Regions from separate parts of the Homo sapiens genome. Here region 1 is linked to region 2. The links come from fine-mapping of genetic effects on gene expression. A gene starts in region 2. The other region holds a variant in brackets. All regions are shown on one strand. Distances are between the middles of the regions. Region 1 overlaps CCDC27 (coiled-coil domain containing 27). Region 2 holds the start of LRRC47 (leucine rich repeat containing 47).

What was found. PIP is the estimated chance that this variant, and not a neighbour inherited with it, causes the effect.
Region 1: its variant is the best candidate, but not a certain one, in a credible set for the expression of LRRC47 in subcutaneous fat (FUSION, PIP 0.51).

The regions. Positions count from the first base shown.
Region 1 is chr1:3,764,662-3,769,661 of GRCh38, reverse strand. CCDC27 (coiled-coil domain containing 27) reads right to left here. Exons shown (of 12, transcript NM_152492.3): 9 at 3,050-3,127; 10 at 2,217-2,429. Among named protein-coding and RNA genes, the nearest start is that of SMIM1, 5.6 kb to the left of the region's middle. The variant C/T (reference allele first, on the strand shown) is at 2,726.
Region 2 is chr1:3,793,533-3,799,048 of GRCh38, reverse strand. LRRC47 (leucine rich repeat containing 47) reads left to right here and starts at 2,551. Exons shown (of 7, transcript NM_020710.3): 1 at 2,551-3,187. The coding sequence starts at 2,573. RefSeq lists enhancers at 2,370-2,664, 5,005-5,516 and a silencer at 2,780-2,989.

The sequences.
Region 1 (5,000 bases), 29 kb after region 2:
CATGGCTTTAGAAACTGGAAACAGGTGTCAGAGAAGTCAATGTGGATTGTCTGAGAGCTAGGAGGTGCCGGATCCAACCCCTGACCCTGTGCGGCCCAGCCCCAAAGCCCAAAGACTCTCCTACACCAGGTGGGCTTTTCTAATTGGAAAGTAAAACCTACACACACATATATATATATTTTTAAACCAACAAACCAAAATAGTACAGAAGCCGCACGTAACCCCTGGACCATCCTCCACTGCCCAGGGGAGCTGCAGTGAGCGGACTTCCTGGCCCTTGGGGACACTCTCACTTTAGGCATTTAACAGTGCGCTGCTGGTGCTTCCTCCTTTCCATGCTGACTAGGAGGTGTCTGTGCCATGGACAGCAGCGTTGAACCTGGCCCCCGCGCACAGACCCAGAAGGCGTTCTCGTCTTCTGCTGCCATGAAGATCCTTGTCTGCCTGTACACCCGCAGCCGCCTCCCCAGAGGTAGCTAATCGTGCCTCCCAGGAAGCTGCAGAGGAAACCCCTCCAATCTGCACCCCAGGAGCCTCAGACAGGAACCCCTTGAGTTATGCGGCACGCTCAGCACGAGTTCCTCGTCCAGAAACCCTGACGACGCAGAGGTGCCCCACAGGAGCTGGGCCCGAGAGGCTCAGCCTTGCCTCCGAGTGGAAGCATGTCCACACTGCCGCTCGGACAGGTTTAAGTGACAGCAGGAATGTCATGGGCCCCTGGCCTGTGTGAGGAGTGGAATCCTTTCCTTCTTTCCAGTATTTATTGAGCGCCCAACTTTGTACAAACACCGTGCCAGGTGCTGGAGGTCGTGAGGTCACAAGGGGCTGGGCCTCTGTACTGGGGGTCCCTCCCCAGGGTAGAGGTTGGCAGCTACCCGGGGTGTCCAGCCTCACTTCCCCACACCCGTGGGGCCTCACCATCAGGCTTGGCGCTAGTTCCTGCTCACCCGGACTTAGCTTCACAATATTTCTCAGCTCAGCTTTCCAGGCTCCACCAGGTCAGTGCAGGCTGGCGCACAAATGGACACACCTAGACCGCCTCTGGTCTAACGCTTTCACCAGGACTACGGCTGGATCCCAAACTGTTTTATCAAGGGATACCAGGGGTGGGTGCCTCAGTCTGACCCAGCCGGAAGGAGGTGGACTCAAGCAGGAAAGAGGACGCAGTTGAGTTGCAGTTGGCATTTCTGGTGGGAACCTGACTTCAAAAGCCTCCATACATGACCTTGACCTTTGCTTAATTTTGGATTCTAAATCAAGGTCAGGGCCAGGCACGGTAGCTCACACCTGTATTCCCAACACTTCGGGAGGCCAAGGCAGGCAGATTGCTGGAGCCCAGGAGTTCAAGACCAGCCTGGACAGCATAGTGAGACCGTCTCTACAAAAAGCTTTTAAAATTGGCCAGGTATGGTGGCACATGCCTGTGGTCCCAGCTACTCAGGAGGCTGAGGTGGGATGACGACAGCTTGAGCCTGGGAGGCCAAGGCTGCAGTGAGCTGTTATCACCCCACTGCACTCCAGACTGGATGACAGAGAAAGACCCTGTCTCAGAAAAAAAAAAAAAAAAAAAAAAGGTCAGCTCTTTATTGATTTCCTTTTTGGCATGGGGCCCTCACAAGCAGGGCACACTCTGGCCTTGCTCACGTTTCATATGACACCCCAGTGGAGCCCTGCAGTTGAGACTGCCAAATCCCAGCACCACCGCAAAGCAGGTCTGCTGTCCAGGGGGACTGTTCATCCTTTCCTATTTGTCTACTAAGTGAGGATCATGATAACTACTTCGCAGTCTGGTTAAAGGAGCTACATGACTTTGATACCAAGAAGGTACTTAGAATGGTGCCTGGTCCAGCAAGCACGCTATGACTCAGAGATGAGGGGGGCAACACCATGCCTCCCTATCCAGGTGCCCTCCTCCTTTCCAGCCAGTGATCCAACCCCTTCACAATGCAACCCAAGACCCGCAGCCCTGCCCATGGGGCTCCGCCCACCACTGCCATTGACGAACATTTCCGGGCTACTCTGTTGCACTCTCACTCCGTCCTCTACCCACATTTCTTGAGTGTCAACTCTGTGTGGATGCTGGTGTACACGGCAGAACCAGCCCGAGCCCCAGCGTACACAGACCCCGGTTCTACCTCGGTGGGCGGTGGGCAGAGGCCTGGGTGCTCGGCCGCCAGCTGCTGGGACAGACCCTCAGGAGGAAGGGCTGGGCATACCCTGGACTGGGAGCTCTCCAGGGCCACGCGGGTGTGCTGCTCTGCCTGCTGAATCATCTCCTTCTTGCTCTGCAAATCCTCCTGCAGCTGCTTCCACCTCTGCAGGTGGTTCTGGTCCAGTTCCACCTGCTCCTGCAGCTGGCTGACCTTGGTGTCCAACTCTGAGATGACACAGTCCCGCTTGGTGAGCTTTCTCTCCAGTTCCGACACTTGCTGGGGACAGCCGGGGAGAAAAAAGAGGTGGGGTCATTTCGCCCAACCTGAGTATGTGTGGCACCCATCCACTTTTTCCTAAAAGATGGCCGGCGGCCAGGTGCAGTGGCTCACGCCTGTAATCCCAGCACTTTGGGAAGCTGCGGTGGGCGGATCACGAGGTTAAGAGATTGAGACCAGCCTGACCAACATGGTGAAACCCTGTCTCTACTAAAAATACAAAAATTAGCTGGGCATGATGGCAAGTGCTGGTAGTCCCAGCTACTCGGGAGACTGAGGCAGGAGAATCACTTGAA[C/T]CCAGGAGGCGGAGGTTGCAGTGAGCTGAGATCACACCACTGCACTCCAGCCTGGTGACGGAGCAGGACTCTGTCTCAAAAAAAAAAAAAAAAAAAAAAGGACTGGGAACGCTTGCTGGGTCCCTCCAGTCCAGTCTGGACCCAGCAATTGCGAGGAGCCTTCTGTGTGGACGTGGGGTGCAGAGATCTGTCGAGTGGCATGCTACCGAAGGGGTCCTGGCTCAGCTGTGAAGACGCTCCAGCCCCGTCTTGCCCTTTGCTGTGTTGGGACTTACAGTAAGAACAGTGGCCTGGCTGATCATTTAACGACACCCAGGCTGTCACCTGTCGGAGGAGCTGGTTGTCCTTTTCAATGAGCCCCATCATCTCTTGGTGTTTCTTATCTTCTCGGAGGTTGGAGAACTGGAAGGAGACAGAAGGGTTGGCTTGGGGGACTCCCAGGTTTAGATAACAGACTGAATTCCGGCATCTAACTTTTTTCCTTCCCCAAAGCTCCCTAAAATAATAGCAGCGGGATTTCTATTGAAGGCAGGGAGAAGAGAAGAAGAAAAAGGACTAAAAATATTTTGGAGAGTTTGAAGGTGGCTGAGTGGTATCTGACATCCCAGATCCAAGAAAGCCAAATAGCCGGCAGTAGGAAAAGCAGAAAATAAGCCCAATTCACACTTGAGTTCCTAAAAGTCTCAGACATTGTTGGTCTGGGTTCTTCTAAACATGGAGGCTAAAATGAGGATGATTGGTGGAATGTTATTTCAGAAATGAAGAGCCCTAGGCCACGTGCAGTGGCTCACACCTGTAATCCCAGCACTTTAGAAGGCTGAGGTGGGTGGATCACTTGAGGTCGGGAATTTGAGAGAAGCGTGGGTAACATAGATCCTATCTCTACAAAAAATAAGAACATTGGTTGGGTGTGGTGGTGTGCACCTGTGGTCCCAGCTCCTCAGGAGGCTGAGGCGAGAGGATCACCCGACTCTGGAGAGGCTGAGGCTGCAGTGAGCTGTGATCACACCACTGAACTCCAGCCTGGGTGACAGAGTGAGAACCCATCTCAGAAAAAAAAAAAAAAGGAGAAAAGAAAAGAAAAGAAACTCTCCATTAAAATGCCAAAGCAAAGCACACTGCTCTGCCAGGGAGCACAGAGTGGTCACCTGTGTGCTCAGAGTCCAGTCAACTCGAACATTGGAGCAAAGCTCTCAGATGAATGACAGACACCAAAAGCAAACTTGTAGGAAATAGAAGTGGTGCAAGAAGTTAGAAAACTAACAGTATGATGAACGCTGTCATCAAGGGAAAATACTGCAATTGTGAAGCCAAACAAGAGTGCGCTTCAAAAAAAGAAAAATGGAACACTCAGAGAACATCAGAGTAAAATATTATAACAAAATGAAAAGAGCTGTTGATAAAGTTAAGGAAATCTTCTAGAAAGTATCGGTAAGAGACAAAGAGACAAAAAGGTTGAGATAACAGATAAAACAAGAGCGGGACAGGAGGTCCAATAGTGTGAGAGAAGGCCATAAAAAAACAATAAAACCAAAGAAAATTCCAGAACTAAAGGACATGAGTTTCCAGATGGCCACTGAGTGCCCAATACAACAGATGAAAACACACCCTCAATAAAGCACAACTCTGGGAGGTTTCAGATCACCTGGGACAAAGATAGGATCTTACAACTTTCCAGAGAGGAACAACCAACCCAGAAGGAACCATGAACGACTTTGGACTTATCATCGGCCAACCTGGAAGACAACAGAGGAAGGCCTCTGTGATGCTGAAGGAAAATGGTTTTCAAACAGGAATGCTATATCCAACCCAGATGTTATGAGGGTATAGAGTAAGGACATTTGCCAACATATCCTGTCCCCAAAACTTTACCCCTGTTCATCGTTTTTTTTTTTTTTTTTGAGATGGAGTTTTGCTCTTGTCGCCCAGACTGGAGTGCAATGGTGCAATCTTGGCTCACTGCAACCTCCTTCTCCTGGGTTCAAGCGATTCTCCTGCCTTGGCCTCCTGAGTAGCTGGGATTACAGGCATCCACCATCACACCGGTTAATTTTTGTATTTTTAGTAGAGCTGGGGTTTCACCATATTGGTCAGGCGGGTCTTGAACTCCTGACCTGAGGTGATCCACCTGCCTCAGCCTCCCAAAGTGCTGGGATTACAGGTGTGAGCCATCGTGCTCAGCCTCATTTATCCTTTTTGATAAAACTACTGGAGGATGTGCTCCACCAAAAATAAGTGAAGAGGGCAAGAAAGCAAAAGGTGTGGGATGCAGCAG
Region 2 (5,516 bases):
ACTAGAAACAGGCTAGAATTTGGTATCATTGCTACAAAGAGTCAGCTTTGTCAGTCTTTTATTGTTGTTGTTATTTTGAGATGGAGTCTCGCTCTGTCACCCAGGCTGGAATGCAGTGGTGCAATCTTGGCTCACTGCAACCTCCGCCTCCTAGGTTTAAGCAATTCTCCTGCCTCAGCCTCCCGAGTAGCTTGGATTACAGGCGCCCGCCACCATGCCCAGCTAATTTTTGTATTTTTAGTAGGGATGGGTTTTCACCATGTTGGTCAGGCTGGTCTCAAACTCCTGACCTCAAGTGATCCACCCGCCATGGCCTCTCAAAGTGCTGGGATTACAGCCATGAGCCACCACACCTGGCCTGGCTTTGTCAGTCTTAAAGTCTGTGTTGATATTAATGATGGTCAGGTGGGCCTGAATTCCCAAAGGGAGGAGAATATAATGAGGCATGTCCAACCCCTACCCCTCCACATCCGACCCTTCCCATCATGGCCTGAACTAGTTTTTCAGATTAACTAGGGAATGCCCTTGGCCCAGAGGAGGGGTCCACTCAGATGGTTGGGGGGCTTAGAATTTTATTTTATTTTTATTTATTTATTTTGAGACGGAGTCTCACTCTGTCGCCCAGGCTGGAGTGCAGTGGCGCAATCTCCGCTCACTGCAAGCTCCGCCCTCTGGGTTCTTGCCATTCTCCTGCCTCAGCCTCCCGAGTAGCTGGGACTACAGGCGCCTGCCACCAAGCCCGGCTAATTTTTTTTGTATTTTTAGTAGAGACGGGGTTTCACCGTGTTCACCAGGATGGTCTCGATCTCCTGACCTGGTGATCCGCCCGCCTCGGCCTTCCAAAGTGCTGGGATTACAGGCATGAGCCACCGTGCCCAGCCTCTAGAATTTTATTTTTTGGCCAGGTTTGGTGACTCACACCTGTAATCCTAGCAATTTGGGAGGTTGAGGCAGGTGGATTGCTTGAGTTCATGGGTTTGAGACCAGCCTAGGCAACATGGCAAAACCCCAGCTCTACAAAAAATACAAAAATTAGCCAGGCGTGGTGGCACATGCCTGTGGTACCAGCTACTCAGGGGCTGAGGTGGGAGGATCACTGGAGCCAGGGAAGTTGAGGCTGCAATGAGCCGAGCTGGAACCACTGCACTCCAGCCTGGGTAACAGAGCAAGACTCTGTCTCAATAAATAAATAAATAAATAAATAAGAATTTGGGGGCTGGGTGCGGTGGCTTGTGCCTGTGAGCCCAGCACTTTGGGGGGCTGAGGCGAGCAGATCACCTGAGGTCAGGTGTTCGAGACCAGCCTGGCCAACATGGCGAAAACCGGTTAATATAAAAATTATATTAACACGGTTAATATAAAAATTAACCGGCCACGGTGGCATGCACCTGTAGTTCCAGCGGGAGGCTGAGGCAGGAGAATTGCTTGAACCCAGGAGGCGGAGGTTGCAGTGAACCAAGATAGCATCACTGCACTCCAGCCTGGGTGACAGAGCGAGACTCCGTCTCAAGAAAAAAAAAAGAATTTTGGTTTTGGTTTACACCACTCAAAAGTGCAGGAATTCCAAAACAAGCCGGTCGGGGCACAGTAGAGCACAGACTCTGGCTCCTCCATCCGCCCGCACCCCACCCTGTGAAAGGAAAATAAATCTCAAAACCCCACAATCACTAAGTCAAAGGAAAAAGTCAAGCTGGGAACTGCTTCGGGCAAATCGGCCTCCCGTCTTATTCCTAAATAAGATAGTTACAAATACATATTTTTAAAGCTACACACCTCCCTCACAATTTGCCCACAAAGAAATTCTCTGTGGGCCTCAAGATCTTTACCCTAAAACAGTTCTGTTGAATTTCACCCTGGCAATGCAAATTGATAGCTTCCCTTCACAGGTGCGAGACAAAGGACTGAACTCAAAGCCATCCCTCTGCTCACCTAGACAAATGCATATCTGATCGCTTCCTTTGCTCTACTGTTTACGTAGAAATGAAGATTCAGTAAGCCAGACTAAAGCATAAGCGACTATTCCTCTACCCGCGTCTCACATGCATAATAAATTGTGCAGTCAGCGAAAGGCTGAACAAAGACTCAAAAGAATGCACCCTCCGGTCTCTTCTCTACCTGTGACCTGAAAGCCCTCTCCTGGAATTGTCCAGCCTTTCTGGGCTGAACCAAGGTACACTCGCACGTGTTGATTGATGTCTCACGTCTCCCCAAAATGTACAAAACCAAGCTGCATCCCAACTTCCCTGGGCACCATCGTCACGATCTCCTAGGGTTGTGACACTGGCGTGTCCTTAACCTTGGCAAAATAAACTTTTTACATTTCATTGAGTCCTGTCTCAGATATTTTTGGGTTCATAACCCCCACCCTCACCCCTACCCGCGGAGAGAGCGAGCCGCTCTCCAGCCCCTCCCCGGCTCTACGCAGGAGAGGCCACTCTCCTCTATGGCACGCGCGGCGGCACTCTAGCAGCCAGGTGGCTTCTCTATGGGCTTTTCCGGCACAGGTCGGAAGTGGCGCGCGCTGCCCCGGAAGCACCCTGGTGGGTGGGTGCCTGCCAGCAGCTGAGGCGCCATGGCGGCGGCAGCGGTGTCAGAGTCTTGGCCGGAGCTGGAGCTGGCTGAGCGCGAGCGGCGGCGGGAGCTGCTGCTGACGGGGCCCGGGCTGGAGGAGCGAGTGCGGGCGGCGGGTGGGCAGCTGCCGCCGCGGCTTTTCACCCTGCCGCTGCTGCACTACTTGGAAGTGAGCGGCTGCGGGAGCTTGCGCGCGCCGGGGCCTGGCCTGGCGCAGGGCCTGCCGCAGCTGCACAGCCTCGTGCTGCGGCGCAACGCGCTGGGGCCCGGCCTGAGCCCCGAGCTCGGGCCGCTGCCTGCCCTTCGGGTGCTCGACCTGTCGGGCAACGCGCTGGAGGCGCTGCCGCCGGGCCAAGGCCTGGGCCCCGCCGAGCCGCCGGGCCTTCCGCAGCTGCAGAGCCTCAACCTCAGCGGCAACCGGCTGCGCGAGCTGCCAGCCGACCTGGCGCGCTGCGCCCCGCGCCTGCAGAGCCTCAACCTCACCGGCAATTGCCTAGACTCCTTTCCCGCCGAGCTCTTTCGCCCCGGCGCGCTGCCCCTGCTCAGTGAACTGGCGGCTGCTGACAACTGCCTCCGAGAACTCAGCCCCGACATCGCCCACCTGGCCTCGCTCAAGGTCAGCGGGGGCTGCCCGGGCGGGGCGGGATGGGGCCTTGGAGTAGCCCTGGAGAAGGAACCCCTCTCGGGGCCGAGCAGTTCCTAGTGACGCCCCCTGGGGCACTGGGCCCAGGGAATTCCTACAAGGCTGAAAGGAGCCAGCTGCGGGGGGCATCACCCCTGGGAAGCAGATGCCGCCTTCCAACTCCCCCTTCTCCTGGCCACACCAACATACTAGGTGGCCTCTGAACTCCCCCGCATTCTGTTAACTGGACTTTTACACGTGGTACGCTATTTTGTAATTGTTAGCAAACCTGGCTTCTCCTGTAGATCGAGCGTAGAGACCTGTCTTTTTTGTATCTAGTACTTGTGAAGTGACTTGAGAGTGAGTCTGGTGGTGAAGGGGGCACCCTGGATTTTGCATAATGCCACATGCTGTGATCTTGAAGATTATATTTCACTTCATCCTAATAGCAGCTTTCCAAGGTAGGGGTGGTTATTCCTGTTTTACAGAAAGCCAAAGGGCCTGCCCAAAGTAAGCAGCAGGTAACTTGGGTTTTTCTCCAGACTATATTGTCCAGCGTCTGTTTACTAATTAATCTTGGATCCCCAGGCCCCGCGATAATGCTTGGCCTATAACAGGTGCCCATTGAATCTGTTGCCTAAAAGAAAGTAGGGAAGCCACATGGCAGAACCACGACCTAAACCCAGCCAGATGTTCTCTCCATCTTCTCTTTTGGTTTCATCCTTAAGGCAGTCCTGCATTTCTTCCCCCATTTTTCGTCTTTGAATTTATGCAGACATTTCTTTTTTTTTTTTTTTTTTTTGAGATGTAGTCTGGTCCTGTCACCCAGGCTGGAGTGCAGTGGCGCGATCTCGGCTCACTTCAACCTCCGCCTCCCGGGTTCAAGCGGTTCTTCTGCCTCAGCCTCCTGAGTAGCTGGGCTTACAGGCGCACACCACCACGCCCGGCTAACTTTTGTGTTTTTAGTAGAGACGGGTTTCACTGTGTTGGTCAGGCTGGTCTCGAACTCCTGACCTCATGTGATCCGCCTGTCTCGGCCTTCCAAAGTGCTAGGATTACAGGTGTGAGCCACCGCGCCTGGCCTATGTGGACATTTCTTAATAAAATACGTATACACTTTAGCAGCTTATCTATTTATTTGCTGTAGCAATTCCTCAAGACATTGCAACTCATTTTACAAGTAACATATCTATATAAGGATATATAGACAAACCCTGGCCGGGCGCGGTGGCTCACACCTGTAATCCCAGCACTTTGGGAAGCTGAGGCGGGCAGATCGCTTGAGGTCACACCACCAGCCTGGCCAACATGGTGAAACCCCATCTCTACAAAAATACAAAAATTAGCTGGGCCTGGTGGCGCGTGCCTGTAGTCCCAGCTACTCGGGAGGCTGAGGTGGGAGGATCACTTGAGCCCAGGAAGTGGAGGTTGCAGTGAGCTGTGATACCAGCCTGAACAGAGCGAGACCCTGTGGCAAAAAAAACAAACCCACTGTAGAGTGACACATGGTTACTGATGTAACTGCCCAATGGGTTCATTTTATCCACTACCCGGATAGAGCTGATTTATCAGGGCAGGAGGGTTGCAATAGAGAAAGTTTTACACATGTAGAGCCAGCTAAAGTGGAGACTGGAGTTTTACTGTTATTATTATTGTTGTTTGAGATGGAGTCTCGCTCTGTCTCCCAGGCTGGTGTGCAGTGGTGCAACCTTGGCTCACTGCAAGCTCCGCCTCCCGGGTTCACGCCATTCTCCTGCCTCAGCCTCCCGAGTAGCTGGGACTACAAGCGCCCGCCACAACACCCAGCTAATTTTTCGTATTTTTAGTAGAGATGGAGTTTCACTGTGTTAGCCAGGATGGTCTCGATCTCCTGACCTCATGATCTGCCTGTCTTGGCCTCCAAGGTGCTGAGATTACAGGCATGAGCCACCGCGCCCGGCCGAGTTTTATTACTAAATCAGCTTCCCCAAAAATTTGGAGGCGGGGTTTTTCAAGGATAGTTTGGGGAAAGGGGAGGGTGGCTAGGCAACGGGTGCTTGCTGCTGATTGGTTGAGGTGCAATCATAGGGGTGTGGGAAACGGTCCTGCTTACTGAGTCACTTCTGGCTGGGGCTGCGGGGAGCTCTTTTTGGTTTCAGGTAGAGCCATTGATCAGACATGCAAAAACCCTGAAAAGACACAGCTCAGAAGGCCGGTCTTAGGTTCCACAGTGCTGCTAGTGCTGTTATCTGCAGGAGTCACTGGGGAAGTCGCATATCTTGTGACCTCCAGAAGAATAGCTGGCAGTTGTTTATGTCTACCCCTTAGCAGAATTCAGGTTCCT